Regions from separate parts of the Homo sapiens genome. Here all the other regions are linked to region 2. The links come from fine-mapping of genetic effects on gene expression. A gene starts in region 2. Each other region holds a variant in brackets. All regions are shown on one strand. Distances are between the middles of the regions. Region 1 overlaps DRC1 (dynein regulatory complex subunit 1). Region 2 holds the start of DRC1 (dynein regulatory complex subunit 1). Region 3 overlaps DRC1 (dynein regulatory complex subunit 1). Region 4 overlaps DRC1 (dynein regulatory complex subunit 1).

The links. PIP is the estimated chance that this variant, and not a neighbour inherited with it, causes the effect.
Region 1: its variant is fine-mapped to the expression of DRC1 in nasal epithelium (TOPMed, PIP 0.98).
Region 3: its variant is fine-mapped to the expression of DRC1 in testis (GTEx, PIP above 0.99).
Region 4: its variant is fine-mapped to the expression of DRC1 in whole blood (TOPMed, PIP above 0.99).

The regions. Positions count from the first base shown.
Region 1 is chr2:26,441,889-26,450,089 of GRCh38, reverse strand. DRC1 (dynein regulatory complex subunit 1) reads right to left here. Exons shown (of 17, transcript NM_145038.5): 9 at 5,734-5,868; 10 at 5,142-5,374; 11 at 1,287-1,399; 12 at 5-94. Among named protein-coding and RNA genes, the nearest start is that of DRC1, 44 kb to the right of the region's middle. The variant C/A (reference allele first, on the strand shown) is at 4,168.
Region 2 is chr2:26,397,844-26,406,049 of GRCh38, reverse strand. It overlaps DRC1 (dynein regulatory complex subunit 1), which reads right to left and starts at 4,130. Exons shown (of 17, transcript NM_145038.5): 1 at 3,906-4,130. The coding sequence starts at 4,060.
Region 3 is chr2:26,421,189-26,429,394 of GRCh38, reverse strand. It overlaps DRC1 (dynein regulatory complex subunit 1), which reads right to left. Exons shown (of 17, transcript NM_145038.5): 3 at 7,995-8,107; 4 at 4,941-5,124. Among named protein-coding and RNA genes, the nearest start is that of DRC1, 23 kb to the right of the region's middle. The variant C/T (reference allele first, on the strand shown) is at 4,929.
Region 4 is chr2:26,452,052-26,460,257 of GRCh38, reverse strand. DRC1 (dynein regulatory complex subunit 1) reads right to left here. Exons shown (of 17, transcript NM_145038.5): 14 at 6,709-6,938; 15 at 5,468-5,611; 16 at 5,025-5,127; 17 at 3,547-3,797. The coding sequence ends at 3,741. It overlaps OTOF (otoferlin), which reads left to right. Exons shown (of 47, transcript NM_194248.3): 46 at 53-250; 47 at 2,038-3,055. The coding sequence ends at 233. Among named protein-coding and RNA genes, the nearest start is that of DRC1, 54 kb to the right of the region's middle. RefSeq lists enhancers at 1,486-2,055, 2,056-2,626. The variant C/T (reference allele first, on the strand shown) is at 3,764.

The DNA.
Region 1 (8,201 bases), 44 kb before region 2:
TCACGGAGAAGATGGCATCCAGCCTCAGCAGATAGCATTCATTCTGCTCCAGGGGCAGGAGAAGGCTCAGCAGCTTGCTCTCTATGAGGAACCCCTGGGGAGAAGGAAGAAGGCATCTCCTGTCGGGGACAGGTTTCAGGAGCGAGTCCCAGGGTCTGCAGCTGCCCCCTGTGTAACACTCCAGGGACCATGCCACGGAGCAGACGCCCAGGGATGGGAGCCAGCAGTGGGCCCCAGCAAAGCCTTCTTGGGGTGCCCATGAACGCCCCCCTCCCCAGGGAGCAAGGCCAGAGACAAGCAAGGCCAGGGACAAAGCCCATCCTCACCACAGACTTAGCTTTTCCCACCCAGAAGGGCACCAACCCACCTCACCCACAAGCCACTAGGCAAACTCCTGAGGCCCCCACCACAGTCCAAAGCTGACCCAGTCACAGGCTCCTGCTTCACCCATAGTCTTGTCCCCAAATATCTACAGAACACAGCAGCAGGACAGGGAGGCATGGAAAGCAGTGGGCACCCCAAACCAAAACACAGCACACATGCGGTGGAAGGGAGAGGGCGGCTGAGCAGATGCGGTGCCCGCTCTGAGCTGGGATGCCTGGGGGAGAGCTCCATGGGGAGGTGGCCTCTGCATCCAGCTGCAGGTTCAGAGGGCAGAACCTGCCACCTGACCCCTTCAGCAGCAGCTGCCCTCAGTGGCAAGAGCCAGCCAAAGGCAACTGCCCTCACTATCCTAAAAGAATACCCACTTCAGAACCGTAAGATCCAAACAAACACTGCCCATGTTTGACCACAACCCAACCTCCAGCTGAACCAGCTCAATGCAGCTTTTATTCTAAGGCTAATCATGTTTGCTAACATACAATGCAGACATCCAAATCCCAACATAGCCAGAGTCACCCCCAAAACAAGCCCCTGAGAAGGGCCATGTCAGTGTGGCCACATCACTTAGCAAGTTGGTTCATGGAGGTGAGCTGGTGCAACTTCTGTCTCAGAAGCAGCATCATTTTAAGCTGGCAGGAGCCCTCCAGCTGGCCTAAACTATGCCATGCTGGCCAACCAAGGTTAGACCCATTTTCCAGCTGGGCCAGCTCAGAGGCAAGGCCTCTATGAACCGGCCCTGAAGTCCAGGGGCCATCCTGACTCTGCTCCTCAGGGCCCAACCCTGGGCTTGGCCAGGGGAGGACTGGCCCACTCCTGACTCCAGGCTAGCACTGGCCCAGCAGAGGCCTCAGAACCTGCACACCCCCGTGAGTCCCTCTGCTGCAGCCCCCGCCTGGCCTCACCGACTCGTCACACAGGAGCATCAGGATCCTCTTGGTAGTTTTTTCAGAAATTTGCTTCGGCAAATCCAGGTAGGACTCTGGTTCCGCGGCGGCCTCTTCTGCCTCCTCCTCTTCTGCAGTTGGGTCATGGGGAGGAGAGAGAAAGAAAAAGAAGATAATTTCTGGAGCTAGTTGACTCTGAGAAACAGTCAGATGGCTTTCCTTGAGAAAATGTACCTCTTAAAAAGCCTCTGTGAGGCATTCTCTCAGTCTCTTTATGATGAAAAAAGCCTATTACGTGGCGGGAAGGCGGGCTAGGGGGTCGGAATCAGAGACTACCTGGAGAACTCGGCCATTCCCAGCCAGCCTGTAATGCCCTACTTTTCCAAATTGCGTCTACCTGGAAACATCATACTCAAAATCCAGCCATGAACCAGGAAGTGGGAGGGAGAGTGTGAGCCCATTTATTCTTATTTCAGAGATGATCTAGCAAGTGGCTATATAGTCTCTAAACCTGCAACAGATTAGACAGAAGCAGCCAACTCAAAGCAGGGGCAGGTGGCTTTGCACATTCACAGATAATTTTTTTTTTTTTTTTTTGAGATGGAGTCTTGCTCTGTCACCCAGGCTGGAGTGCAGTGGTGTGATCTCAGCTCACTGCAACCTCCGCCTCCTGGGTTCAAGTGATTCTCCTCCCTCAGCCTCCCAAGTAGCTGGGATTACAGACACCCACCGCGACACCTGGCTAATTTCTGTGTTTTTCGTAGAGATGGGGTTTTGCCACATTGGCCAGGCTGGTCTCGAACTCCTGAACTCAAGTGATCTGCCTGCCTCGGCCTCCCAAAGTGCTGAGATTACAGGCATGAGCCACGGCGCCTGGTCCAGAGAAATATTAACAGCAAGAACTGACAGCTGACAGCAAGAGCCAAAAATTTTCTTAATTAAAATTAACTTCTTAGGCCAGGCGTGGTGGCTCATGCCTGTAATCCCAGCACTTTGGGAGGCTGAGGCAGGTGGATCACTTGAGGTCAGGAGTTTGAGACCAGCCTGGCCAACATGGCAAAACCCCGTCTCTACTAAAAATACAAAAATTAGCTGGGCATGGTGGCACGCACCTGTAATCCCAGCTACTCAGGAGGCTGAGGCAGGAGAATCGCTTGAACCCAGGAGGTGGAGGTTGCAGTGAGCCAAGACTGCACCACTGCACTCCAGCCTGGGCAACAGAGTGAGACTGTCTCAAAAAGACAAAAATAAAACAAACGAACAAAAAACATAATTAAATTGTAAAAAACCATTCCCTAATAATCAAAAGCAAAACGAAACAAAAATACCTATATGTGTATCAAGCTGGTGATATAACCACACAGAAACTATTCCAAGTGCATTTATTTTTATTTATTTGTTTATTTATTGAGACAGAGTCTCGCTCTGTCACCCAGGCTGCAGTGCAGTGGCATAATCTCGGCTGACTGCAACCTCCACCTCCCGGGTTCAAGTGATTCTCCTGCCTCAGCCTCCTGAGTAGCTGGAATTACAGCCGCGCGCCACCATGCCCGGCTAATTTTTGTATTTTTAGTAGAGACAGGGTTTCACCATGTTGGTCAGGCTGGTCTCAAACTCCTGACCTCATGATCCGCCCATCTTGGCCTCCCAAAGTGCTGGGATGACAGGCATGAGCCACCGCACCCGGCCTATTTTTATTTTTTTTTTAATTTTTATTATTTTTTATTTTTTTGAGAAAGAGGCTCACTCTGTTGCTCATCCTGGAGTGCAGTGGTGCAATCTTGGCTCACTACAACCTCCACCTCCCGGGTTCAAGCGATTCTCCTGCCTCAGCCTCCTGAGTAGCTGGGATTACAGGCGCACGCCATGACCGGCTAATTTTTTGTATTTTTAGTAGAGACAGGTTTTCGCCATGTTGGCCAGGCTGGTCTCGAATTCCTGACCTCAGGTGATCTGCGCGCCTTGGCCTCCCAAAGTGCTGGGATTACAGGGGTGAGCCATCGCACCTGGCTCCAGGTGACTTTAAAATATAGCAATCTGTCTGTACATCCCTGGAGGGACACATTTTAAGAATAAAAGGAACCATAAAACAGTGTAAACTGTCTTTAGTAATCATTTGTTGGTGGCAGGGCTGATATTTTCCTCTGAGGCAGTTCTGTGGTGCTGTGGGGAAGGCATGTGATTCATTATTTTGAAGTCACTGAGCACTAAGATTTTAAAGTTGGAAGAAAGGGGATACACTTTGATACTGTTAAATAAAAATCCTGGCATCCTGTTGATGAGGAGGTATTAGAATGAACTCATGATTTATTTTATTACCAAAAAAAAGAAATCCTATACTCTCAGCTCTGTCCACTGAAAAGGCCTAGAAACAATGGCCAATCCAAAACAATAAGCACCCAGCGCCCACAGCGTGGTTTCTAAATACCATTCCCTGGGCATGCATGGTGACACAAGCCTGTAATCCCAGCACTCTGGGAAGGAATCGCTTGAGCCCAGGATTTGAGACCAGCCTGGGCAACATGGCAAATCCATGTCTCTACAAAAAAATACAAAAATTAGCTGGGCATTGTGGCATGAGTCTTTGGTCCCAGCTACTCGGGAGGCAGAGGTGGGAGGATTGCTGAAGCCTTGGCGGCAGAGGTTGCAGTGAGCCGAGATCCCACCACTGCCCTCCAGCCTGGGCGACAGAGTGAGACCATCTCAAAAAAAAAAAAAAAAAAAAAATTCCCTATTTGAAAGGACCAGGGGATCCTTGGAGAAATGGCTGATTCCAGACAAGAGGCAGGAAAAGTATAATGTGTGCCTTGAACACCTGGTCATCCTGGAGAGCCAGGACGCTGTTAAAAAAAACTACTAGGGCTAGCCAAGCGTGGTGGCTCACACTTGTAATTCCAGC[C/A]TTTTGGGAGGCTGAGTTGGGGGGATCACGGGCTCAGGAGATGGAGACCATCCTGGCCAATATGGTGAAACCCTGTCTCTACTAAAAATAAACAAAATTAGCCAGGTGTGGCAGTGCGCACCTGTAGTCCCAGCTCCTCGGGAGGCTGAGGCAGGGGAATTGCTTGAACCCGGGAGGCGGAGGTTGCAGTGAGCCCAGATCGCGCCACTGCAATCCAGCCTGGCAACAGAGCGAGACTCTGTCTCAAAAATAAATAAATAAATAAATAAATAACTACTAGGGCTGAATCAAAAGGACCCAGAAGCCAATATGAAGATTTCCACTAGCCAAAGATGGAACAATTTGAGCCTCAATAAGGATAATTACTTTAGTAAACTAAAATACATCAAATTTGTTTAAACTCATGCATTCATAATATTTTTTAAAAACTCATTGGTACCTTTGGAAGATGCTAGAGGCCCAACCCATTATTTTGAAAACTGGTAAACAGAGAAAAAATAAGCATCTATCCTGCTTTTCATATACAGACTATCTCAGGGTAGCAAATTGCTGAGGAAGGGAAGATTTTCTTTTAAGAAGTATTCTGTTAAATAAAGACACAAGAACAGAATCTAACATATCACCATTTTGCAATCCCTAATACAGTTAATGGATCTTAGACAATGATTAGCAATGGTTGCTAACATCACAAAAAGGGAGACAATTTAACATTAGTTTATCCCGATGGAGGTACTACACAATAGTGTACTTAGCAAAAATAAATTGGACCTGCATCTGATCAAGCTTCTAGACCTAACTGCCAGTTTATAATACAGGAGAGAGAGCAAAGCTATAAATTAGAGGAGACTTAAAAGCGATACCAATAATCATACTCTTCCCCCTCCTCCCTAGACTATCTCTAACGTGACTGGCTTGACCCGATGTTCTCAGGGGGCTCCTCCAGCTCTAAGGCTCTATGACAGTGTTCTAGTCACCTGAGCGCATAAGCATTTCTTCTACTATCTGTGTGGCGGACTTCTGGGGCTGCTGAGAAATAGGCCCAACATTGTTCAGGAACCAGAAATCAGGTGCTGCCCAGGGAAGCCCCAGATGATGGGTGTGGATGATCCTGTCCACATCAAAGGCTCTGGCTATTAGGTCCTTCGCCTCCTCTTCATTCATCAGCCAAATCTCCCAAAACTTCTCATCATCAATAAGAGCAAAATGCCTGTGAAGGAGAGTCACAGAGCATGGCCAGCTGGCCCCAGGACCTGGCCAGGGTCCCCTCAAATAGCAGCAGGGCAGGAATATGAAAAGGAGCTGTGCTAATTCCTGGGCCTGGCCCCATCCCTGGGCGGCTGATTCCCACTTACGATAAACTGGAAGCCATCCCAACACATCTCAAGAAAAGGCAGGTGACACGCAAGTGAAGGGCCAGGGGAACACACCACAAAAGGTTAACTAGTGCCTGGTCCAGCCCCAGAATAGCTGGTGACATCAAGTCCAACGAAATCACAGCTTGTACAAACTCCATCCCCGTCACCTCTATGCTAGGACAAGTGCCTTAGGACCAAGTCCTTAAGATACCTCATGGCTTTCTGTAGCTCCTTGAATTGCATCACAAGACGTTTGTAGTCCGAGGTTAGAGACTGGTTCTCCTCCTGAAACTGCTTTATTTGCTTGGCATATTTTGATCTCAGATTGTTAAGTATATCATGCAGGCTGGTTGAAGGAGAAAAAGGTTAGTCTGCAGCTGAATAGAAGGTATTATGTATGTTCCTCTCATCCACCTGATTCAGCTCTACCACAAACCCAGGAGCAGATCTGTGGAAGAGCAGAAAACCCTCCCATATATTCCAAAACACAGATCCCATTTTGATCAACAAAAGGAAGGCAACAGGAGATCTTGGGACAGTCCAAAACGAAACGCATTGAAAACAATCCAGAGCCCATTCCCACCAAGAGGCAGCCTCCTACTCAAGACTGTGGACAGAACCTACTTCACAATACATCATTTGTCAGAATGCCCATACCCATACCTAGGGCCAGCCTCACATATTTAAATAATCTATCTCAACGATTTCATTGTCATGACTTGGATGTTTAATTCAATCATGAAGCAAGAAAATTTTAAAGAAAAAAAATGCATATCACAAAAGCCTATGATACATAAATCTTCCAGCCTCAAAGAGCTGATACCGTTAACAGGTCCAGTAACTCATTCATTCATTCATTTATTCACTCATCCACGTATTCATTAAACAAACATGAAATGCCACTTTTGCGCAAGGATATGTTGAAAGACAAAGATGAATACAAAGATACGTTTCAATACAAGGTACTATCAGTCTAGTCAAAAACAAAGACAAACGTTAATTACAGTACAGCGTGGAAAGTGCTATAGGAGAGTTTTATGCAGGGTGCCAGGGGAGCCCAGAGGTGAGGCATCTAACTTACCCAGGCTTGCAGGGGAGGGGGTGGTCCAAAATTTCCAGAATAGCAAGAGGCAGTTAAAACCTGTCCAATAGCACTGTGAATCCAGGCACGGCACAGCTCACCATCTCACTGCTAACAGGAGCTCTGTGCATGGAAACTCGGCCCATAAAATATGCATGGCAGGCGCAATGTTTAGACCCAGGCCCATACTTCAGACTTCAAACTACTACAGAGGTGGCTCTTATCAGTGCCCCATTCACACAGTAACAGAGAAGCTGAAGGCCAACATATTTTAAGTTTAGAAATTCTAAAAATAAGATTTTCCCTCTCCTAAGCATTATTCTGAAATGATCAAAATGTCTCTCAAATGCAAACATTCATCATTCATATTTTCATCATCAAGAAAATGCAAAAAAAGTCGTTACCTTAGTCTCTGATAGAAAGAAACAGCTAACCCATTTCCTTAACTACAGCCTTCAAGGAGGCTTTCCAAGCACAGATGTAAAAATAAGTAGTCATTCCAAAGTGTTTTTTCCCAATGTCATGCAGTAAAGGAGTTCCTATGTGTCATCTAATTACCGAAGCTAACAAAACAAACTCCAGGTGCATACTGAAGGTCTGGGCAAGATAGCAGGCGAGGAAGTGAACAGGGAAGAATGGCTGCAAGAGGAAGCTCAACAAAAAAAGTCCAGAGTTCTTAGTGCCTGGAAGCTAGAGATGCAGGGGAGTGAGGCTGGAGAACTGGAAACAGGGAGCAGAGGCAAGTCTGGTTTCAGAAACTGTGCCCTGGAAATGACAGGGCCTCTCCAAGCTGAACTGTTACGTTGGCAGTTCCAGGTAAATGAAAGGTGAGCTCAGGATTGGGGATATGAGGTTGGCAGTCATCAACAAAAAGGGGATATTCAAAACCATGAGACTGAGGTATGTGGCAGATGAAATAAAAATTAAAAGCAATGGTAAGGCCTGGATTTTCTAGATTGTCTTATCTAGATACTCAAGACATATCAAGCAAGGAAAAGCAGAACCACCAAAGGAAACAAATACATTAAGAAAGAAGAGCAAATATTTTAGGGTCATTTAAACCAAAGAAGAAAATCCAGTATCCAATCATAATAGATGAGGCCTGAGGAGAAGCCACTGCGCTTGGCTAGAAGGGCATCATCAGTATCCTACTGTGGGAAGTTTTTGTCCAATCCTGGGGTCATAGGTTGCTACGGCTTGAATGTAACTCCTCCAAAATTCAGTGTTGTCAATGTGATAATATTAAGAGGCAGGACCTTTAAGAGGTAATGAGGCCATAAGGCCTCCTCCATCATGAATGGGATTATGGGATTAAGGCCTTTATAAAAGAGGCCTCCCAAAGCCTTAGGCCAGCTTGCTCTCCCGCTCTTCTACTGTGTGAGGACACAGCATCCCTCCCCTCTGAAAGATGCAGCCCTCACTAGAAACTAAACCTGCCAGCCTTGATCTTGGCCTTCCCAGACTCCAGAACTGTGAGAAATAAACTTTTGCCTTTGTAAATTATCCAGTCTCAGGTAGTCTGTTAGAGCAGCACAAACAGATATGTCAAATTGTGAAATGCTGGGTGGTGGTGAGCAGGAAAGGAAAATGGCAATGAA
Region 2 (8,206 bases):
CATTTGTTTTGAGAGCACATTGAAATGGTACAGAATGGTCCCAGCTCACTTACGCACAATGCGCGGCCCCAACCACTAATAAAGAATAGAGGCAGGGCGCAGTGGCTCACGCCTGTAATCCCAGCACTTTGGGAGGCTGAGGCAGGTGGATTGCCTGAGGCCAGGAGTTCGAGACTAGCCTGGCCAACATGGTGAAACCCCGTCTCTCCTAAAAATAAAAAATTAGCTGGGTGTGGTGGCAGCTGCCTGTAATCCCAGTTACTCGGGAGGCTGAGCCAGGAGAATCACTTGAACCTGGGAGGTGGAGATTGCAGTAAGCCAAGACTGCGCCACTGCATTCCTGCCTGCATAGACAGAGTGAGACTCGGCCTCAAAAAAAAAAAAAAAAAAAAAAAAGATATAGCCTTTAAAAAAAAAAAACAAGACCACCATACCATTATCATAGCCAAAAAGTTCCTTAATATAATTGAATGCCCAGTACAACTCTTTACATTGACAGCTCTTTCTCACCCTCACTGACCACCTACCTTCAGGTGCCACATCTATTATTCTTCATATTTGCTCATTGCTTGTTTCCGTTAGGATTCTTTTCAAAATGTATAATTATGTTATTTGTTTACTTGTTTAGTTGCACTTTATTTTTTCCCATCTCCCTCATTAGAATATAAGCTTCCTGAGAACAGAGATTATATTTGCCTTGTTTATCATAGAATCCCCAGCACAACTGCCAAGGTCAGAGTAGCAGACAAGGGCTTGATCCACAGAGAGTTTTAAAGATGGCTTACAAAATATGGCATCATTTGGTGCAAAACGAAAGGGCAGCCAACAAGAATACAACTCATAGGTGCTCACCAAAGAAAGCAGCAAAGGATAAATAGGCTAAGGGTGCACGCTGGTAAAGATTCATGCTCCCTTGCCCAATTCCTGAACCTAAGCCAGTGTTCAGAGCCAGAATCTATTGACTGAAGAGGCAGCAGGGTCCCCACAAGGAAGGATCTGGAACACAACGGCAAATATATATTGTAATGATTCCCCCAGTTCTTCCCCAAAGGGGCCTAGGGTCATCTACTCAGGAGGGCTGCACAATAAGGAAAGAGGATACCCAGAAATGTTTAGGATTAGAACAGGGTCTGAGTTACCATTGACACCCAGAGACCCAAAGCATGCTCCCACCCACTTAGAGTGAGGACACAGGGGAGGCAAAGTCCTACTTACAGAGGGTCTGCCAAGTCTGTGGACTCAGCCAGCAATCATGTCTCTAATGGCCAAAAGTATAATTGGGACCTACATACTTAGAAGTTTGAAAAACTCCACTCCTTGGCCTATAAATAGAGCTACCATAGTGGGGAAGGCCAAAAGGACATCTCTGAAACTGCACCTCAGTACACAAAAAAAAATATTGCCACCCAGGGGTGTTGGTGGGGATTAGTGCCACCCTGAAGTATCTCAACGATGCAGGAATGGTGATCCCTATTGAATCTCCTTTTAATTCATGGGTCTGGCACCTGCAGAAACTGGATCCTAGAAAGTGACTGTCAACTACCAGAAGCTCCACAGGTAGCACTCCTGAACACAGCATCTATGCAAGTGTGGTAAGCTTCACTAGAGCAAATTTGTACAGCCTCAGGCACAGTATGTGTGGCTACTGATTGGGCCAAATGCATGCTTTTCTACCTCAATCAGGAAAAATAATCAGGAAGTTCACATTTACATGGAACAGACAATGATATACACTCACAAGTCGGTCACACTCACAGGACCATGGTAGTTCTCCTGATCTCTGTCATAATATATTCTGAATATATCAGGGACATCTGGATATCCCAGAGAACATCACAATGATCCATTACTTCAGCACTGGCAAACTATGGCCTGTGGGACAGATCCAGTCCACCACCTGTTTTTGTATGGCTTCCAGGCAAATAATGATTTTTACAATTTTTTTTTTTTGAGACAGAGTCTCGCTCTGTCGCCCAGGCTGGAGTGCAATGGCACGATCTCAGCTCACTGCAACCTCCGCCTCCTGGGTTCAAGCGATTCTCCTGCCTCAGTCTCCTGAGTAGCTGGGATTACAGGCGCGCGCCACCATGCCTGGCTAATTTTTGTATTTTTAATAGAGACAGGGTTTCACCATGTCGGTCAGGCTGGTCTCAAACTCCTGACCTCGTGATCCCGCCCGCCTCAGCCTCCCAAAGTTTTGGGATTACAGGCATGAGCCACTGCGCCCGGCCCAATTTTTTTTTTTTTTTTTTTTGAGATGGAGTTTTGTGCTTGTCACCCAGGCTGGAGTGCAGTGGCGCTATCTCAGCTCACTGCAACCTCTGCCTCCCAGGTTCGAGCAATTCTCCTGCCTCAGCCTCCCAAGTAGCTGAGATTACAGGTGCCTGCCACCACACCTGGCTAATTTTTGTATTTTTAGTACAGACAGGGTTTCGCCATGTTGGCCAGGCTGGTCTTGAACTCCTGACCTCAGGTGATCCTCCTGCCTTGGCCTCCCAAAGTGCTGGGATTACAGGCATGAGCTACGATTTTTTACAATTTTAAATGGTTTTTACAATTTTAAATGATTTTTACAATTCTAAATGGTTAATAAATAAATGGTTAAAAAAAGACTAGGATGAATAAGCAGAGCACAGGGGATTTTTAGGGCAGTAAAAATATTTGGTATAATACTATACTGGTGGGCTCGTGTCACCATAAATTTATCCAAACCCATAGGATGTACAACACCAAAAAGAAACCCTAAGGTAAACAATGGAGTTCAAGTGATAACGATGCGCCAAGGTTCATATATTGTTACAAATGTGCCCTCCAGTGCAGGATGTTGACAGTAGCTGTGCATGTGTGGGGGCAGGGAGTATATGCGAATGCTATACTTTTTGATCAGTTTTGCTGTGGTCCTAAAAACTGCTCTAAAAAATAAAGTTTATTATTATTTTTTATCAAAAGAAGGCTATTTTGTGATACATGAACAGTATATGAAATTCAAATTTCAGTGTCCATAAATAAAGCTTTATTGGAACACAGTCATGCCCATTTGTTTATGTCTTGCCTGTGGCTGCTTTTGCAATACAATGGCAATTGAGCAGCTAGGAAAGAGGCCATATGATCCGAAAAGCCTAAAATATTTACTATTTGGCCCTTTACTGAAAGGGTTTGCCGGCCCCTGCATTCCACTGATGGCCCCGCAGCAATCAGCCAGGGTGAGCGAGTGATGGAAACACACTGCAGGGCTTGGTAAGACATGTGTGCTCCAGACGGTGGGCAATCAACCCTATGAAGGCCCAGGGACTGCCATGTCATTCAAGTTTGTAGGGGTCCAGTGGTCAGTGGGATGCTGGGATAGCCTATCAAGTAAAAAACAAATCTACTGCATTTTGCATCCTCTACAGAGAAGGAAACTCAATGCCTCTTAGGCCACTTTGGGTCCTAGAGACAATACATCCCGCACTTAGGAATATTATTCAGGCTGACACAAAAAGCTGCCAGCTTTGAGTGGTGCCTGGAACAAGAAAGGACCCAGGCCACAGTGTAAGCAGCCAGGCTACTTGGGCCACATGATCCAGCAGACCCTGTGGTTTGGAGGTGTCCGTAGTGGAAAAGATGCCATGTGCAGACCACAGTCGAACGCCACCACGCCCGATTAATTGTTTGATGTTTTATAGAGATGGGGTCTCTCTATGCTGCCCAGGTTGACCATCTCCAACTCCTGGGCTCCAGTGATCGGCCCGCCTCGGCCTCCCTAAGTGCTGGGATGACAGGCGCGCGCCACGGCACCGGCCCAGCGTTTTACTTTCCCATACTCTGCCTGAACCTTCCCGAAGAAATGTTTCTATTTCATCAGGAAACCAGCCCTTCTCCGGCTCCTGCGGCGCGGATCCCGCCCCGCCCGCCCCCGCGCTCACCGCCTCCGGGCTTCTAAGCGCGCAGCGATGCGGAGGCGCCGGGCCTGGATGCGCTCCTGAGAGTTGTCGGAGTGGACCGAGGGCGCGAGAATCTGGGTGGACAAGTGCTCGTCCACGTTCGGGTCCAGGGCCTCTAGGGACCCCGGCGGATTCATGGCAGGAGTCCCTGGTCCCTAGGCGGCTCCCTCCGCACCACCTCCAGACCTCAGGCTGGTTGCTAGGAACAAACCGTTGCCAGGGAGAGCGGTCACCGGAGCCACAGCCCGAGTGGTTGCGCGCGCAGCTCCCTGGGCCCAGCCTGCCGCCAGCCGCCGTTCCGGCCGAGCATCCCAGCCTCGGGCTGACGCCTCTCCCGCCCGTGGGATGTCAGGTCTGTTGTCAGGCCCACGAAGGCCCGGTCGTGTTAGCGGAGCTGTGGAGTCTCACCAGGAGACTAGAGGACTAAAGAACTGGACCAAGTTGTGGTTCATCACTTGCTGACCCTGATGATTAATTCATCTTCCATTCATTCATCAAATATTCCTCCAACTCATATTCACCAAATAAAATTGAGCGCCTACTCGATGCCAAGCGCTGTGCTTGGATACAGGATACCAACCTGCAATCAAATACTTATGAAAGAGGAAAAGTGGAATAGAGGAAAACAGTCCGTGGGAGGGGGGAGGGATAAAAGTTAGAAATGCGGAAGCACTATTAAATTCTCAACTGTCCCCAGAAAGGCGCTATCTTCTGGGCGTCTCATTGTCAACAAAAATAGTGTTCTCATTGAGAATTAAAACCTGGCGCGCTGGCTCATGCCTCAGCCTCCCAACACTTTGGGAGGCCGAGGTGGACAGATCACTTGAGGTCAGGAGTTTGAGACCAGCCTGGTGAACATGATGAAACCCCGTCTCTACTAAAAATACAAAAATTAGCTGGGTATGGTGGTGGGCACCCATAATCCCAGCTACTCGGGAAGCTGAGGCAGGAGAATCGCTTGAATCTGGGAGGTGGATGTTGCAGTGAGCCGAGATCGAGCCACTGCACTCCATCCTGAGCAATAGAGCAAGACTCTGTCTCAAAAAAACCCAACCAACCAACCAAACAAAAACTGGATACCATTTAACAGGGTTCTGTCCCATTAGCCCGTGGGGAATTAAGGGCACTGGATGAGCAGTGAGAAAGGGTGAGTACTAGTCCTAGCCCTGCCCTGCCACCTTGGGCAAGTCACAACTTCTTGAGGAGCATTTTCTCAGCTGTTAAATGATGCAACCCACAGACAACTGTGCGGCCAAGACGACCCGTCCTTTGTGAGTAAGAACTGCCCAGAGGCAAATGGAGTGGGTTTTTAAAATCAGTTCTTCCACGTTTGCAAGCAGTAGAGAGGTTTAGGAATGCCAAAACCATCCAACAGCTATAGAGTCTAACAGCAGCTGCCTGGATCCTTGTCTCACACCTGCCTAGGTGGTGGTGGTAGGAGCGGGGGTACTTGCTTCTAGGCTTCAGGGCCTTCTGCCAGATCTCTGTCTCCTTTGGTTGAAACCTAAAGTATTAAACTCTCCTAGGAGCCATGATACAGCTCTGACCAAAAACTCGTCCAGGTCCTGGTTCATGTTTCCACTATCCGTAAGGACAGAAACAAGCATGTGTGCATGCGCATGTCTATGCCTGGGAGTGGGATACCATGAGAAAGTCAGGGGGAATCAGCTGTTGCACAAGAGGTAAGTGAGAGCAAAGGTACCATACAAACCCATGAAGAGTGACCAGTGAGATACTTGGCCCTGCACTGTTCTGATACCACTTCCAACATCTTTTTATATAAGAAATCTGACTCCATTTTTTGCTGCTGACATTTGGCTGCTGGCAGCTTTTACGCAGCACTCCCTCTTTCTTCTCCACATCTGGGCAAGCTGTTAAAAAAAGCCTAGGTGCTCTTTTTGGTGCTGGCAGATTTCATCTGCGTGCACAGGATACCCTCCTCCCAGCCTCACCCCTTAACCACAATAAAAGCCCCAAGCTTGTCTCCTTTCCTGGCTCTCTCTAGCCATTTTCTGACCAGCTGGGAGGCCCTCTTTGCTCCCACAGGCAGCCTCAATTATGTAATAAACCTTTTTCACTGGTGTGGGAAACACTTTCACTCACCGCTGGAAAGGGACCTCCTAGGAGGACAGTTTGCCAAAATCTATTAACTGTTTAAATTGGCATACTAGGGTAAAGGGTGGAATAGGGAGAGATTTGTTAAAGGATACAAAATGACAGGTTCTAGTGTTCTGCACCACTGGAGGGTGACTATAGTCAATAACATAGTTTCAAATAGCAACGAGGATATTGAGCATTCCCAACACAAAGAAATGACAAATGTTTGAGCTGATAGGCATGCTAATTACCAGACCTGATCACTATACATTATATGGATTGAAATATTACTATGTACCCCATAAACATATATAACTATTATTTCCTTTTTTTTTTTTTTTTTTTTTTTGAGACAGCGTCTTGCTCAATTGCCCAGGCTGGAGTGCAGTGGCATAGTCTTGGCTCACTGCAACCTCTACCTCCTGGGTTCGAGCGATCCTCCTTCCTCAACTTCCCAAGTAGCTGGGACTACAGGCGTGTGCCACCATGCCCAGCTAATGTTTATTGTATTTTTAGTAGAGACAGGGTTTTACCATGTTGGCCAGGGTGATCTCAGACTCCTGACCTCAGGCGATCCACCCGCCTCGGCCTCCCAAAGTGCCAGGATTACAGGCATGAGCCACTCCGCCCGGCCTGCCGAATTTTTTTAAATACTAAAAATTTTTTAAACTGAACAAAGGACAGAGAGAGGAAGAAATATTTTCATGGGGCAGACAACTGTGGTTGTAGAGGTCAAAGGAATGAAACAAAGAGACAAAGAAAAACCACTAAACAAGAAAGTCAGAAGACATGTAATGAATTATGATTAAATATAAATGGGAAAATGCATGCTTAATTTTCCATGCCTTTGTAAATAGTTCATAAGTGAGTTAAATTTAGAAAATTGTTAAAAACTGAAAAAACTAGATAAAAACATATTTATTTGTATACACACAAAAATAAATTAGCATATCCATTCACTAGGCAATTCTAGTTTAAAGATCATCACAAGGAGATCATGGATCTAGCTATAGCTCATTGGGGTCACAACTATATCAGTTTTATTCGGTATTTTATACATAGCACCTAGCACAATATTTGATATGTAGTAAGTGCTCAACAAACTTTTTTTGAAAGAAACGTATATAGATGTATCTGTATGTCCATTCCAGTTACTTGTAATATTAAAAAACTAGATATGACAAAATCCATCAATAGGGGAACCGATAAAAGAATCATGGGATTCTCTAACACAAGAATAAAGGTGACCTAGAAAGACATCCAAGATACATTACATGAGAAAGGGAAGAGGCAGGCAGCACAATATAGAGCCTAAGCCGAGTTTGATTTGAAATGTAGACAGTAGTACACAAGAAAAACAGGGGGAATACCACAAAGTAGTCAATATCCCTCAGGGGTGGGCTTATGGGTGATTTTCAGATTCCCTGAAGATTAAAAAAAAATGTTTACAATGAGGATAAATCCCTTTTGACTCAATAAAACATAAAGCTTATTTATTCATGTTTTTGTAAGAGAAATAACAGGAGACCCCCAAGAGAGTGAGGCAGGCAAGTAGGGCTGTTATAGATGAGAGGGACTTGGGGAAGGGAGGCAGGTGATGTCCATTCACCTTGATGACTGACCAGCATCTAGAGTGTGGTCCTCAACTGGTAGGCAATGCTGGTTCATACTAATAAGCTCATACAGGCCGGGCACGGTGGCTCATGTCTATAATCCCAGCACTTTGGGAGGCCAAGGTGGGTGGATCACGAGGTCAAGTTCGAGACCAGCCTGACCAACATGGTGAAACCCCATCTCTACTAAAAACACAAAAATTAGCTGGGTGTGGTGGTGCATGCCTGTAACTCCAGCTACTCAGGAGGCTGAGGCAGGAGAATCGCTTGAACCCGGGAGGCAGAGGTTGCAGTGAGCAGAGATTGCGCTCTAGCCTGGGTGACACAGCAAGACTCCATCTCACAAAAAAAAAAAAAAAAAAAAAAAAAAAAAAAAAAAGCTCATACAAAAGCCTGGCTGGCTCATACTAACAAGCTCACAAAAGAAAAACATAGAATTTCTTTTAGCAAGCAAGTACAACCATCACACAGGGCAGTGTGCATTTTCGTGCCTTTCGTGTAGATCAGCCCACAGAGATGTGCTGGTCACAAAGAGGATCAAACTCTGACTGGGAAGTCCCTTGATATGTAGGA
Region 3 (8,206 bases), 23 kb before region 2:
AAAATATAAAAATTAGCCAGATGTGGTGGTGCACGCCTGTGGTCCCAGCTACTTGGGAGGCTGAGGTGGGAGGATCGCTTGAGCCCAGAAGGTCAAGGCTACAGTGAGCCATGATTGCACCACTGCACACCAGCCTGGGAGATGGAGCAAGATCCTGTCTCAATAATAATAATAATAATAATAATAATAATAATAATAATAATAATAATCATCTGTACAAAGAGAAAGTGGTTTCAGAAGAGTCTTAGAAGGCCTGAGATAAAGCATAGTAGATGGAGTGGAATGGACTCTGCTCAGGGCAAAGCTCTTAACAAGCACCCAGGACCAAACCCCTCAATGTTATCACCTGCTGCAAATCTCCCTGCAAGCTCCCAGAAAGCCTAGAGTGTCCTAGCTGAGCAATTAATGTCCAGGTTCCAACACGAGAACATATCTACTGCAGACTAAGTTGCATTCCTTAACTAAGGACTAAACTCTGGAACAGCATTTGCTGTAAAAATACTACGGTCATGTGCTGCATAGCAACATTTCAGTCCATGATGGACCACATATACGACAGTGGTCCCATAGGATTATAATACGGTATTTTTTTTTTTTGAGACAGAGTCTTGCTCTGTTGCCCAGGCTGGAGTGTAGTGGCTCGATCTCGGCCCACTGCAAGCTCCACCTCCCGGGTTCACGCCATTTTCCTGCCCCAGCCTCCCGGGTAGCTGGGACTACAGGCGCCCATCACTATGCCTGGCTAATTTTTTGTATTTTTAGTAGAGACAGGGTTTCACCGTGTTAGCCAGGATGGTCTCGATATCCTGACCTCGTGATCCACCTGCCTCGGCCTCCCAAAGTGCTGGGATTACAGGCGTGAGCCACCGTGCCCGGCCATAATATGGTATTTTTACTGTGCCTTTTCTGTTTAGATACACAAATACTTAGCACTGCGTTACAACTGCTTACAGTATTCAGTACAGTAGCATTCCGGACAGGTTTGTAGCCTAGGAGCAATTAGTTATATCATATACCCTAGGTGTGTAGTAGGTTATACCATCTAGGTTTGTGTAAGCACATGTTATGATGTTCTCACAACAATGAAATCACCTAACAATGCATTTCTCAGAATATATCCCCATCATTAAGTGATGCATGACTGTATTTCTATTAGATAGCTAATAATTCTACAATTATGACAAAGCTTTTACTTCTAGTTAAAAGTTTATCCCTTGAAAAGACATCAAAATTGGAAGAGTTAAAATTATCTTTGTTCACAGATGACATGATCTTATATGCAGAAAAACTAAAGATTTCACACACAGGAAAACCTGTTAGAACTTAAATTCAGCAAAGTTGCAGGACACAAAATCAAAATTCAAAAATCACACTATTCACAATAGCCAAGAATTGGAATCAACCTAAGTGTCCATCAGCAGATGAATGGATAAAGCAAATGTGGTACCTATACACAAGGGAGTACTATTCAGCCATAAAAGAGAATGAGATCCTGTCATTTGCAACGACGTGGATGGAATTGAAAGGCATTACGTTAAATGAAATAAGCCAGGCACAAAAATTCAAACTTTGCATGTTCTCACTCATTTGTGGGAGCTAAAAATTAAAACAATTGAACTCGTGGAGATAGAAAGTAGAATGATAGTTAGCAGAGACTGAGAAGGGTAGTGTGGAGGGTCAGGGAGGAATGGGGATGGTTAATAGGCACAAAAATATAGTTAGAATGAATAAGATCTAGTATTTGACAGCATAACAGCGTGACTAAGGTCAGCTAGATTTATTGTACATTTTAAAATAACTAAAAGAGTATAACTGGAATGTTTGCAACACAAAGAAATGATACATGCTTGAAGTGATGGATACCCCATTTACCCCAATGTGATTATCACACATTGTATGGCTGTATCAAAATATCTTATATACCCCATAAATATATACACCTACCCATAAAATTTTTTAATTTTAAATTTAAAAAAAAAGCTCAGGTGCGGTGGCTCACAACTGTAATCCCAACACTTTGGAAGGTGGAGGTGGGTGGGTAATTTGAGGTCAGGAGTTTGAGACCAGACTTGGCAACGTGGTGAAATCCCATCTCTACTAAAAACACAAAAATTAGCTGGGCATGGTGATGTGCGCTTTAATCCCAGCTACTTGGGAGGCTGAGGCAGGAGGATCACTTGAGCCCAGGAGGTGGAGGTTGCAGTGAGCCAAGATCAGTCTACTGCACTCCAGCCTGGGTGACAGAGCGAGACTCTGTCTCAAAAAAATTAAATTAAATTAAATGTTTAAAAAATTTTAAATCAGTTGCATTCTTATATGCAAATAATGACCAATCCAAAATAGAAATTAAGAAAATAATCCATTTACTATAGCACCAAAAAGAATGAAATACTTAGGAATAAACTTAACAAAGTAGGCAAAAGCCTTGTACACTGAAAACTGTAAAACATTACTAAAAGAAATCAGAGAAGATATAAACAAATGGAAGATATCCTGTGCTTATGAACTGGATGACTCAATATTGTTAAAAATGTCCATACTATACAAAGTGATCTATAGATTCAGTGCAGTCCTTAACAAAATCCCAACATCATTTTTTGTGGAAATAGGAAAACCATCCTAAAATTTGTAAAATTCAGAATCTCAAGAGACTCCAAATTGCCAAAATAGTCTTGAGAAAAGAACAAAGTTGGAGGCCCCACATTTCCTGGTTTCAAAACATACTACAGGCTGGGCGCAGTGGCTCCTATCTGTAATCCCAGCATTTTGGGAGGCTGAGGTAGGTGGGTCACCTGAGGTCAGGAGTTCGAGACTAGCCTGGCCAAAATTGTGAAACTCCATCTCTACTAAAAATGCAAAAATTAGCCAGGCATGGTGGTGCATGCCTGTAGTCTCAGCTTCTCGGGAGGCTGAGGCAGAAGAATTGCTCTAACCCTAGAGACGGAGGTTGCAGTGAGCCGAGATCAAACCACTGCACTCCAGCCTGGGCGACAGAGCAAGACTCAGTCTCAAAAAAAAAAAAAATAAACAAAAACAAAACTGCAAAGAGCAACAGGAATTAAAGAATGTTGTACTGACATAAAAATAGATATATAGACCAAGGGAACTAGAGAGCCCAGAAATAAACCCCTACATATATGACCAAATGGCTTTGACAAGGGTCAAAATGATAAATGAATGATACATAAACCCCTGCATCTATGGTCAAATGACTTTTGACAAGACTATACAGTGGAGAAAGGATAGTCTCTTCAACAAATGATGTTGAGAAAACTGGATATTCACAGGCAAAAGAATGAAGTTGGGTCCTTACCTTATACCATATACAAAAATAACTCAAAATCGATTAAAGACCTAAAACTATTAAACTCCTAGAAGAAAATATAGAGGACAAGCTTTCTGCACATTGGATTTGGCCATAATTTCTTGGATATCACACCAAAATCCCAGGCAGCAAAATCAAAAATAGACAAACGGGGCTGCACCAAACTCAAAAATGTTTGCACATCAAAAAAAAAATCAAGACTAAGAAGGCAATATACGGAATAGGAAATCATAATTGAAAATCATATATCTGATAAGGGGTTAATGTCCAAAATACATAAAGAACTTCTATAACTCAAAAACAACCCAATTTAAAAATAAGCAAAGGATTTAAATAGACATTTCTCCAAAGATGATATACAAGTGACCAATAAACACATGAAAAACATGCACAACATCTCTAATCGTTACGGAAATGCAAATCCAAACCATAATGAGATATCGCCTCACACCATCAACACGGAAGCTATCAAAAAAACAGGATGTAAGTGTTAGTGAGAATACAGAGAAGTTAGAACCCTTGTGTACTGTTGGTGGGAATGTAAAATGGTGCAATCATTATAAAAAACAGTATGGAGGTTCCTAAGAAAATTAAAAATAGAATTACCATATGACCCAGCCATCCTGCTTTTAAGTATACATCCAAATAATTCAAAGAAGTATCTCAAAGAGATACGTGTATACCCATGTTCATAGCAGCATTACTCACAAAAGCCAAAACGTGAAATCCAACCCAAATGTCCATTCACAGGAGAATGTATAAAACAAGATGTGGTATATATATGCAATGAAATACTACGCAGCCTTAAAAAGGAAGGCAGTCCTGTCACGTGCTACAACGAAGTCCATCTATACTAAGCCAAATATGCTAGTCACAAAAGGACAAATGCTGTATGATTTCACTCACAGGAAGTATCTAATAGAGTAGTCAAAATCACAGAAACAGAAAGTAGAAAGGTGATTACCAAGGTCTAGGGGGAAGTGGAAGAGGGAATTGGTGTCTAAGGGGCATAGAATTTCCATGCTGCAAGATGAAAAAGTTCTTAGAGATCTATTGCATCTGAATGCTGTATACTTAACATGACTGAACTATACAGTTTTTTGGTTTTTGTTTTGAGACAGAGTCTCACTCCCTCTGTCACCCAGGCTGGAGTGCAGTGGTGCGATCTCGGCTCACTGCAACCTTTGTCTCCCATGTTAAGGCGACCCTCCTGCCTCAGCCTCCTGAGTAGCTGAGATTACAGGTATGTGCCACCATGCCCGGCTAATTTTTATATTTTTAGTAGAGATGGGGTTTCACCATGTTGGCCAGGCTGGTCTCAAACTCCTGACCTCAAGTTATCCGCCTGCCTCGGCCTCCCAGAATGCTGGGATTATGGGAGTGAACCACCTCATCCAGCCCATGAACTATACACTTTAAAATGGTTATGATGGCAAATTTAATGCTATGTGTTTCTTACCATCATGGAAAAAAGTTTATAACATGACTTGTACAGCATTCTAAATAATGAAGTAAAAGGTTTCTACATTTTTCCATTCAGGAAAAGCAAACCAGTAACCCAGCTAAATCCCAGGCAGATCCCCTGTGGCTGGGCTGGAGGGCC[C/T]GGGCCTCTTGCCTGCTGTAACTCGCTGATGAGTTTATTCTTATCTTCTAAGAGTCCAGCACAGTGCAGCTGTTGGGTATTGAGCATTTCCCACAGCTCTTGGGGAATTCTCTTCTGCTTGCCCTCTTCCCACTTTGAGGTGATTTCATCGAATTTGTCCTGGCTGGTCTTAACTTCATTCTCCAGCTTCTCAATCCTGCAAATACATACATGCCAGCCATGCCAACCCAGCTCCAGATGCTGCCTTCCAGTAGAGCAGGTACGTTCTCTAGAATCTCTAGAATATAAGACCCAGGTACTAGGCACTGCCCAAACACACCCGCCCAAAATCAAACTCAATGCTGAGAAATCTTTTCGTTTAACGCTTGACTGTAAATAACTTAGGCCAAGTAAAGAAAATGACACATAGCAAAAACAGATCAACATTAAGGCTACACACACACACACATACACACGCGTGCACACGCACACACACCAAGATCGATTGGTCACCTGCTTCTGAGTAAGATGATAACACACAACAGTTAAACACTGGGTCTCTGGAGTCACAGAGCTTATGTTCAAGTCCTGACTTGGCTCCTAACTGACTGTCAACCTTTCGGACAAGTTGCATAACTCCCTCAAGCCTCACTTTTCTCTTCTGTAAAATGGCGTGGATGAAAAGTATCTACCTTCAAGTGGCTGGCTGTTGTCAGGATGAAATAAGATGCTGCACACAGCACAGGTGCTCAGCATGGGAGTCACTTAACACATGGTGCTTAAATTATCAATTTTATATTAGCAACATGACCTCAAGTGTCTGGCTACTCCTCTCCCAAGTTACCAATAAATGACTAGTGGAATGTACAAATATGGAAACTCCACCAATGAGTGATGGAAAATAGGGACAGCCTTTCCATAAATTCCAAAGAACCTCCGTGATAGAGCACACCGAGGCTGGGGCGAGGTGGCAGGAAGGCAGGAGAGCTGAGCTGGGGCCCCTCTGGGAACAGTGGCTAAGATATCTGCCAGAGACTCTCTGCTCCTTGTAACAGACTAATCCTATGAGAGCACCTCCAAACAAACCCCCTGAGGAACCGAAGTCACAGCTTAAACATCCTGCAATCCCCTCTTCCTGTCCCATCCCCCACCCACCCCACCTTCCAAGCTAGGACACTTTTTTAATTTAATTGACTTTTTTATTTCAAGAAATGAGAAAGAGCTGTCAGGTCATCTTTCCGCAGCACACTGACCTTGTAACCTGCCACCTGGGACCTTCAGCATTCCTCTGTGGCTAGAGGACAAGGCCTAACTCCTTGCATGACCTTCCCTGCCTTTCACAAGCTGACCCTGCTGGGAATCTGCCGACTCCATTCCTGGCACAGCCCATACAGGCAGTGGGAAGTTTCGAGAATAAAAGTCACCCACGTTTACTGGTAGGGCTGCTAAAGTTGCTAAAGAGGGAACTGCTTATGCTGAACAACTAAAAATATTGTTAAAATCGACCCCTGTGTGTATATGATGAGACAAAATGGTCAAGTGGTTGCCTTTTTTTTTTTTTTTTTTAAAGACTAGGTTTCACTCCCATTGCCTAGGCTGGAGTCCAGTGGCACACTCTTGGCTCACTACAACGTCCACCTCCTGGGCTCAAGTGATCCTCCTGCCTCGGCCTCCTGAGTACTGGGACTACAGGTGTGCACGCGCCACCACACCCAGCTAATTTTTTGTGTTCTTAGTAGAGACGGAGTTTCACCATGTTGGCCAAGCTGGTCTTGAACTCCTGACCTCAAGCAATCCGCCTTCCTCGGCCTCCCAAAGTGCTGGGATTACATGCGTGGGCCACCCCGTGCCTGGCCAAGTGGTTGTTCTTCTAATTGTTTAAGAAATTAATTGAAGAACAATCCAAAGCTTAAATGAGGACCTGCTATCAGTCTACTTCTGTGTGCAAACCAAAGAAGTTTAATTCTTCTAAGCCGCTTATGCCTCCCTGCTGGACAGCCTGAGACCTGGGACATGGGCGTGCAGGGCAGCCTGCCTCCTGAGGACTGGAGCTGAGGACTTGACGCAGGTTCTTGTGATCCCTGTGAACCTCCATCCTTCTATGCATGGAGCCCTCAATATTCTTTAATAATGCTGCCACCTTTACACATAACACTGAGGTATTCGTGGGTCTGGTCATTCTCACCAATTGAAACCCAGGACTGCCCAGTTGACCTTCTTAGCCTCTTCTCTTTTCTTCCATTACCCGCATACATCCTTCGCTATCATGCCATTCCCAAGCACATCATGTGATCTCACACCTCTGCTCAAGTGTTCCCTCTGCCTAAAATGCCTACTCTTCAATTCCTCAAATTCCTATTCATCCCTCACAGCCCAGCTCAACGTCACCTTGCCTGGGAAGTTTTCTGTAATCTCTGCAGATAGAATTAAAGGCCTCCTTGTGTGTGTTACTACAACCCTTTACACATTATCTATTTTACCACGAATTATGGGTGTTTCCATGTGTCTCTTGACTAGACTGTGAATACCACAAACAGAGGCCGTGTTTCACTCCTTTTGTATACACACAGCTTGGCACGTATCAGCAATGTAGTGCTTGAGGAGGGGAGGAAAGAAAAGAGATGAGATAGCCGGGCGCGGTGGCTCACGCCTGTAATTCCAACACTTTGGGAGGCCAAGGCGGGTGGATCACGTGAGGTCAGTAGTTCGAGACCAGCCTGGCCAACATGGTGAAACCCCGTCTCTACTAAAAATACAAAATTAGCCTGGCTTGGTGGCGCATGCCTGTAATCCCAGCTACTCAGGAGGCTGAGGCAGGAGAATCACTTGAACCTGGGAGGTGGAGGTTGCGGTGAGCCGAGATCACGTCATTGCACTCCAGCCTGGGCAACAAGAGCGAAACTCTGTCTCAAAAAAAAAAAAAAAAAAAAGAGAGAGAAAGAAGAGGAGGGAGGGAGGGAGAAGTTATAAGGGCAGGAAGGGAATTGTCTAAGGTGGACAAAGTCACCCTCCAACAATTCGGGAGAACTGCCGGACCCATGGAGATTACCTTCATGTCCACCAGCTGCAGAGTAGCACAGTCCTTACCTTTGACGCTTTATCTCCTCTTCTTCGACTCTCCTGTGAATCTCTCTGATATCTATAGCCACCTGGATATTTGTCACCAACTCGGTGCCACAGAGCAGAAGTTTAGCCAATTTCTAAAAAGAGAGATATAAGAATTTACAAAGCTAGAACACTTTGTAAATAATATATAAAGTCTGAAACATTTTTGCACAACTGTCCGCAGCTTCTATCCA
Region 4 (8,206 bases), 54 kb before region 2:
ATCCCTTCTCCTCCCTGTCCCTCCTCTGCGCTCTCTACCCTTCATACTCCAGCCGGCCCGACACGAGCTTCATCTGGTTCCTGAACCCTCTCAAGTCGGCTCGCTACTTCTTGTGGCACACGTATCGCTGGCTGCTCCTCAAACTGTTGCTGCTCCTGCTGCTGCTCCTCCTCCTCGCCCTGTTCCTCTACTCTGTGCCTGGCTACCTGGTCAAGAAAATCCTCGGGGCCTGAGCCCAGTGGCCTCCTGGGTCTGATATTTCTTACTTCTTCCTCTGGACCAAGGGCTAGGCAGGCGCGTGCACACACACACATATACACGCACACATCCACAAACACAAATATGCATACATGTGCACACAAACACACACAAGCATGTATGCACACATGTGCCACGCACAAGTGCATACACATGCACTCAAGCACACACAGGCACACACTTAAGCCCACACAAACATGCACAGCAACTTTCAAGCTTTCATGACAGAATAGACTCTCAGAACTAGAAATGACTATTTTACACTTTTCCACATTAAGCCAAAGAGGTGAAGTAGCTTGCTCAAGGTTACCCAGCAAATTAGGGTAGAGCCGGGACTCAAGCCAAGGTTTCCAAATTTCCAATCCTGTGTTCTTTGCACACCACCTCTGCTCCCAGCCATGTTTCTCCCAGACTGTAACCCAATTTTTTTTTTTTTTTTTTTTTTTTGGAGACAGAGTCTCGCTCTGTCGCCCAGGCTAGAGTGCAGTGGCACAATCTTGGCTCACTGCCAGCTCCGCCTCCCGGGTTCACGCCATTCTCCTGCCTCAGCCTCCTGAGTAGCTGGGACTACAGGCACCCGCCACCACGCCTGGATAATTTTTTGTATTTTTAGTAGAGACGGGGTTTCACTGTGTTAGCCAGGATGGTCTCGATCTCCTGACCTCGTGATCCGCCCATCTCGGCCTCCCAAAGTGCTGGGATTACAGGCGTGAGCCACCGCGCCCAGCCGACTCTAACCCAATTTCATTGGCAGAAAGAAGCTGAGCTATGGACAGGGAAAAGGGAAGGGTGTGGCCAGGGTTAGCCAACAGGTCTGGAAATGGCTCTCACCCGTGTGTGACCTCCCAGTCCAGGGCTGTTGTTTTCTGCCCTTCAGGATAATAATTCCATTCAACTCAAACATTTCATAGCCACCATGGCCTGAACACCCAACTGCAGGTGCTCAGAGCTCCCCAGGCACTGGCTCACTGTGCCATTGCGCCAAACCCAGGAGGTAGGTACTGCTTGTAACCCCATTTTATACATGAAGAAACCGAGGTTGATAGAGGTGCCTCACTTGCCTGTGAAAACCATTCAAAACCAGGTGCCCTGCACCCAAGCCCCGGCTCTGTGTCCCCACCAATACTGAGCTCAGCTCTGGGGCTGCACGCCATGTCCTCTGGGAGGCAGTAGTTTGAAAATGCATATGCAGTACTTTCACTTGTATCTTGACATTTTACAAAACCTATTGTTTTTATAACACAAACGACAGATAGTGAGGCTGGCCAGGTGCTTCTCGGCTGGGAGGCTCTACAGAAGGTGGAGTGGGTCTTCATCCTGAGAGTGGGCAGGTCGGTGAGGGCAGCTTGCACCCCACAGGGGCTGCTCAGACCCTCAGCAGGGCCCGGTGGGAACAGCCATTTATGTCCATCAGAAAGGAAGAGGTTGTGAAGCACCAGTCTTACCAAGGACGTGGGGCAGCACATAGAACGAGCTAACCGCAGGAGCTTCCTAACGATGAGAACTGCCTGCAGGGCCAAGGCTGCCCCATGCTGCAAGTAGCTCCCATCTAGGCCTTAGGAGGAGATTCGGGCCCCAAAGGTGCTGCAGGGAGGATAGAGTTTTGTAAGCAGCAAGTCGGGTACTTAGAAATGGGTTTAAACCCTGGCTCCAGCATTCACTGCTTTTGGGGCTGGGGCCATGGCAGGGCTTTTGGGGGTCCAGAAGGACAGAGGATGGGGTGCACTGGGAGGCAGCTCCTGCCCACTGGCTGACCGGCTCCTCTCTTCCACTTCCCAGCCGGCCCGACACGGCCTTCGTCTGGTTCCTCAACCCTCTCAAGTCCATCAAGTACCTCATCTGCACCCGGTACAAGTGGCTCATCATCAAGATCGTGCTGGCGCTGTTGGGGCTGCTCATGTTGGGGCTCTTCCTCTACAGCCTCCCTGGCTACATGGTCAAAAAGCTCCTTGGGGCATGAAGGCCGCCAGCTCCCGCCAGCCGCTCCCCAGCCCTGCCGCATTTCCTTTCAGTGGCTTGGACTCTTTCCCATCTCCCCTGGGGAGCCTGAGGAGCCCAGCGTCCACTCTTCATGCCTTGGGCCGAGCCTGCCTCCTGCTTGCGGGGGCCGCCTGTCCTCACTGCCCCAGGCTGCGGCTTGCCCAGTCCCGCCCCTCTGACCCCTGCCTGTGGGCTGGGGAGCCTTGGATGGGGTGGGGACCTGGAATGGGTCTCTCTTGCCCCACCTGGCTGAGGCGCCACCCTTCTTCAGGCCCAGGCTCCAGAGGAAGACTCCTGAAACCCTCCCCAGGTCTTCCAAGTACAGGATTGAAGCTTTAGTGAAATTAACCAAGGACCATGGGTCAGTGCCCAGGGCTTTAAAAAGAATGAACGAGCAAAAGGTATCCCCGCCGTGACCCCTGCAGATAGCACCGGTCTTTGATCCGCAGCAGGGGCCAGACCCTGCCCACAAGTCCCAGCGCGGCTGCTTCTGCCACTGCTGGGCTCCACTTGGCTCCTCTCACTTCCCAGGGGGTCGCCTGTCCTGCCTGTGGGTTTCCATGGCTTCCCAGAGCTCCCTCTGCCCCAGCCAGCGCCTCCAGGCCCAGCTGAGGAGCTGTGAGAAGCAGCAGAGGGGACTCCCCATCCCGGGCACACCCTGTCCTCCCACCCCTGCCCCCTTGCCCTTCCAGCCCTTTCAGCTGCAGCTGGGAGCTGGCCCGTCAAGTGCTGCCCCTGCCTGTGTCTGGGTTTCTGTTGGCTGTTTTTCTTTTCTTGAGTGGTGATTTTTCTCTAAATAAAAGAAGTCAAGCACTGAGCTGACAGGTCTGCACTGGTCAAGCTGAGAGGAGCAGCCGCAGGTGCGGGGCAGAGGCAGCAGTTCTCTAGGCTGGCAGATTCAGTACCAGCAGGGCTCCCATGGCCTTTCCCCTTCAAGTGGCCTCTGGTGGCCCAGGGTTCAAGGCAGGCCTCAGGCACAGGGCTGCCCACCCAGGCTGCCCACAGGAGGAGTCTTACACCATAGCCCAAAGGGCACACCAGCCTGGGCCCAGGGGCCCCCAAAGCACCGAAAGAATCCTTCAGGTCTGGGGCCAGTCTGAAGGCTTAAGGCCCCACAAGGGCCCAAAAGCTCTAGCCTCCACCCACAGAAACCAGTTCCCCTGAAAGCAAGAAAGGAGCCCCACGCTACTGGCCTCGGCCTCTGACTCACACCACTATCTGAGCCTGGGGCAAAGTCCCCTCATGACACAGAGGTAGGGGCAAGGGCCTGGTCTTGCTAGACCTGACCTCTTTAAAGAGATTCAGCCACAACTTTAAAAGGCTTTAATCATAATGCAGGACACAGGTAACTCCTCTGGCTCCTTATTTCGACAGGCTATAAAGACAGCCCTGGAAAATCCAGAGAGCAGGCCCAGGTGCGGCCCAGTGGGTGATATGAGCTGGCTCCGGCACAGACACCAGCATCAGGCCAGCCCTAACACATCAGCCTTTGGCGGTCCAGCTCATTTTGTGGGTACCCGCAACA[C/T]CTGAGTGGGAGGAACTTGCAGTTCAGAGTTGATCTGGAAAAGAAAGGGTGAAAGTCGTTACATTTTTCCCAGGGCCCTCCTTCTTTGCCACCCTTGCGAGCCACGCTGGCTCTCCCATGGGCCTCCAAAGCCCTGCACGCATCTCCTCTCCAAAGCTGAGAGATGCTGAACACCCACAGACTGCCTCCCTGCAGGAGACACGCCTGAGCCTTCTTGCTCAGCTTCTGCTCCAGCTGTGACCTCTGGTAGCGTTCTTCATCTCCCGCCCGTCCATTCTCTGCAGTCTTCCCCTCTCCTCTCTCCACGCACCCATGCCATCCCCAATCTAGCCTGCCCCACCTCTTCCTCCCCCAGCCTCTTGTATACAGTAGCATCTGTGGAAGCGGGAACCATACCGTCCAGAATGTCTGGGTCCTGTCACAGGCCAAGGGTCATTATGAGGCCAAGGTTCACTACAACATCCCACTTTCAGCTGTGGCCTGGGACCTGGGACTGTGCTGGGGCCACGCAGCCCCTGTGGCTGGACTTGGAGCTGGCCTCAGTCACCTCACACGTGTGCAACTAACAGCTGCGTCACGACCTTCCTGGCCTACAGCCCCAGCTGCAGGTGCCCACACCCGCAGAGCAGGAAATGTCAGCAATGGACTTTTTCCTTCCTCCTCTTGCCAGGCCATGGGGAAGTTGTCCACAACTATTGCAGGGTTGGGCACAGATGGGGGCCAGGGAATATCTGCCCCAGCAGAGCCTCCTTCCCCATGCGAGGATGACCCTCCAGTCATATCCCAGGCAGGGAACCGGGGCTGGTGGGTGGAAAGAGCCCAGGCTCTGGACGAGTTGCAAACTCTGCAAGTTGTGATTGTCCTTTGTGTGAAATGAGGAGCATTGTTTCCGCCCTGTCCACCTCACACAGCGGGTGTGAGGATGGAAGAAGAGAGCACAGCTGGAGGCTCTGTAGCTGGGGAGCTGCTCCTGGCTGTGGCACTGCTTCACACAGAGCAGTCCCAGCTGGCCACTGGCACCAGAAACCACAGTATCAAAGAGACACTGTCACACCTGAGCTGTCCTGGAGGAGACTTCAGGCAAGATCTACTCCTTTGGCCAGTAGTTGTCTCAAGGTGCCACTCTTGATTTTTTACATCATATCACAAAGCTCCCTTGCCTCTGACGGGGAGGGGACTCCTCGTTCCCTAATCCCAGCTCCAGTGCCCCTGCCCCACCCGTGTCTCCCGCTGCCCCTCCTTGGAAGGCCCCGCCGCCCACCTTGGAGTTCAGATACTGCTGCAGTAGCGCCTGCAGCTCTGTGTTCTGCTGCTCCAGAGAACTGTTTTCCAGCAGCAGCTTGGCCCTCTGGGTCAGGACAAGGCTTTGGACAGAAAAATCGGTTAGAGGCTCACTGAATCCTCCATCCTCTGCCAAGTAGGGGCCAGGGTCTTGGTGGTTGTACTTTGGCTACAGGTGGAGGGAGACTCCAGAAGCTACACTCTTCACCCAGCCGCCAGGTGAGCCAGGTTAGCAGGAACAGAACAGGCAGGCCAGGGCCCAAGAGCCAACTGCCCCACATGATCCACCCACACAGGAGATGCCAAGGGCAGCTCTTCCCTCCCAGGTTCAGTGGGACAGGGAGGCAGCAAACGCGGCTGCTCCCAACAACCGTTCCTCACCTGCCCGCCAGCACCCTCCTGCTCCATGACATGCACACTTACTGGTACTTCTCCAAGGCTGTGTAGAGGGCATCCCAGAGGTTCTGCTTGGAGGAAGGGATCACTGTGGTCAGGGCCTGCCAGTACTCCGAGTCCTTGGAGTTGTCACGCACATTCTTCTGTACCCTCAGCGGGGCCCGCGAGTCCCTGAAGGCCAAGAGCACAGTGATTGTCATGTCCATTGGGTACTACCCAGGCCCCCAGGCAGTGCCAGTCACAGGCCTACTGCTTTCCCACCTGTCACCTTCCCACTCAGCAGTCCAAGTTTATTAGACGGTGGCAGGTTCTCAGAAAGGACGCATGCTTATTGTCAACGTTCCTGCCTCGGTACCACCGGTACCTTCGTGAGGGCATAATCCGTGCTTCATCCACCCCTCTCTCTCCCAATCAGTTTACCTCACTGGCTTTACAGCTCATCACTGTGCCCATCTCTTGCACCAACACATCCAAAACAGCACTTGAATTCAGTCATGTCCTCTCCATCCCCTCATGACAGCCTTAATCTGGGGGATCCTCACCTCCCACCTGGACAAGCCTCCTGATGCTTTCCCTGTATCCAGCTTCGCCCCTTCCCTGACGCCACAATGATCTCTCTAAAACGCAAGGCTAATCATGGCTCTTCGGCTGCTTCAAATCCTTTTCTGGCTCCCACCCACCAACGGGTAAAGACAAAGATCTTGGGCACATTGGGCAAGGCTCTCCAAGACCTGGCTAGCTCCCCACCCACCAGTGCCACCTCCCAGGCCCTTGACACTCCAGCCAGACCTCCTGTGATGATTCTTGAACAGACCAGACCTTCCCCATGCTGTCATTTCCTGAAATGCCCTTACCTCCATTTTATCTGCCTGGGAACACCTAGTTCCAGTGCCATTTCCTCCCAAAACCCTCTGACATGCCAAATGGAAACGGCCACTTCCTCCTCTGAACAATGGTGCACCTTGAATGTGCTTTGACCATTACTCTGATCACAAGGCAGTGCCCCCACAGTGCTTACACATGGCAGCCTTCAGTGCATGTCTGCTGAATGAATGATGAGTGAAAAAAGCACAGATCACCACTATGCCCTATTGCTTTCCTGACTGTCCAGCGATTGGTTGCCCCAGCCCGCCTTCAGATAGCCCTGTCCTTAGTCCCCGCATCTTGCCCAGCAGACTCTTCTCCACTCACTGGCTCTGCCTGGCTCCCCAGCCCATCCAGCTCCCCTGGTTCTGGTCTCAGGCAAGCCTTCCAGCCCCGCAGCCCACCTAGGCTTCTTCAGACCCATGACGAAGGCCTCCAGAATCTTGAGGACATCATTGGGGTGGATGACCCAGGGGGAGGGTGGGGTCTCCTCCTCTTCCTCCTTCTCCCCTTCCACCAGGCTTTCTTCCTTTTCTCCCTCCATCTCCGTCTGCTCTGCCAGCTCCAATTCTGACCTCGTGCTTGTCTCCTCCATGCTCGCCTTCTCCATGCTCGCCTGACTGCAGGGCTTGATCTGGAGAAAGATGCACGGACAACTGTGGGCTGGGGACACACGAGCATGAGCATGGAGAGAGAGGCAGGAAGAAGAAAAACCAGAAAAGTTTACAGAAAGTGACAGCTTGCCCAGGGAGACATTTACACAGGGACAGAAACAGGAGAAAGAGTGGGAAGAAGGGGGATGGGATGGGGAGAGGCACTAGGAGGCTACGAGAAAATGGAAAGGTTCTGTTTCTAAATCCGGGCTCCTAGGTGCTCACCTTACTGACATTCATAAAGCTTACATGTTAGAAATCTTCTTTTGAATCATAATACAGATTAAATTTTTGCTTTAATTGTTAAATTTAAAAGGTCTTCCTCCTACTCCTATTTTGCAGTTCATGCAATTGACCTCCCACAGGCAAACGAATGCTATCAAGTTTCCTATGGTTCCTTCCAAGGAAATAGTATGTCTATATAATGTTTATATATAAATACATGCGCATACCTTTCCATATATACTCCTCCTTCTCGTTTTGACATCAATGATACTATACTACAAATAGAGTTCTGTAGTTTGCTTTTACACTTACCAATAAACCTTAGGTACCTTTTCATGTGAATACATAAAGAACTTTGGTTTTTTCCCACAGTTTTATAGTACCCCATCGTGTAGACATACCATATATTATTAAATAGATTCCTCAACAATGGACATATAGGTTGTTTCGAATCTTCTGCCATTTCAAACAATGTACAGTGAATCAGCTACAATAAATACACCATTTCAACTGTAATGAGATATATTTAGAGAATAAAATCCTAGAAGAAGAATTTCAGAGGCCAAGGTGGGCAGATCATTTGAGGTCAGGAGTTCGAGAGCAGCCTGGCCAACATGGTGAAACCACATCTCTACTAAAAATACAAAAATTAGCCGGGCGTGGTGGCAGGTGCCTGTAATCAATCCCAGCTACTCAGGAGGCTGAGGCAGGAGAATGGCTTGAACCTGGGAGATGGAGGTTGTAGTGAGCCGAGATCGTGCCACTGCACTCCAGCCTGGGCAACAGAGTGAGACTCTGTCTCAAAAAAAAGAAGAAGAATTTCAGAGTAAAATGTATATAGTTTTGTAATTGATACTGCCAAACTGTCCTCAATGGAGGTTACAATTTATACTCCTACCAGTAACTTATGAGTGTGCCTGTTTTCTACACCTCAGTCATCGCTATGTTATACTTGCTGTGTTATCAAGCTTTTTTTTTTTTTGCGCCAACATAACAGGTTGGCAAAATGGAAATCAGCCATTTT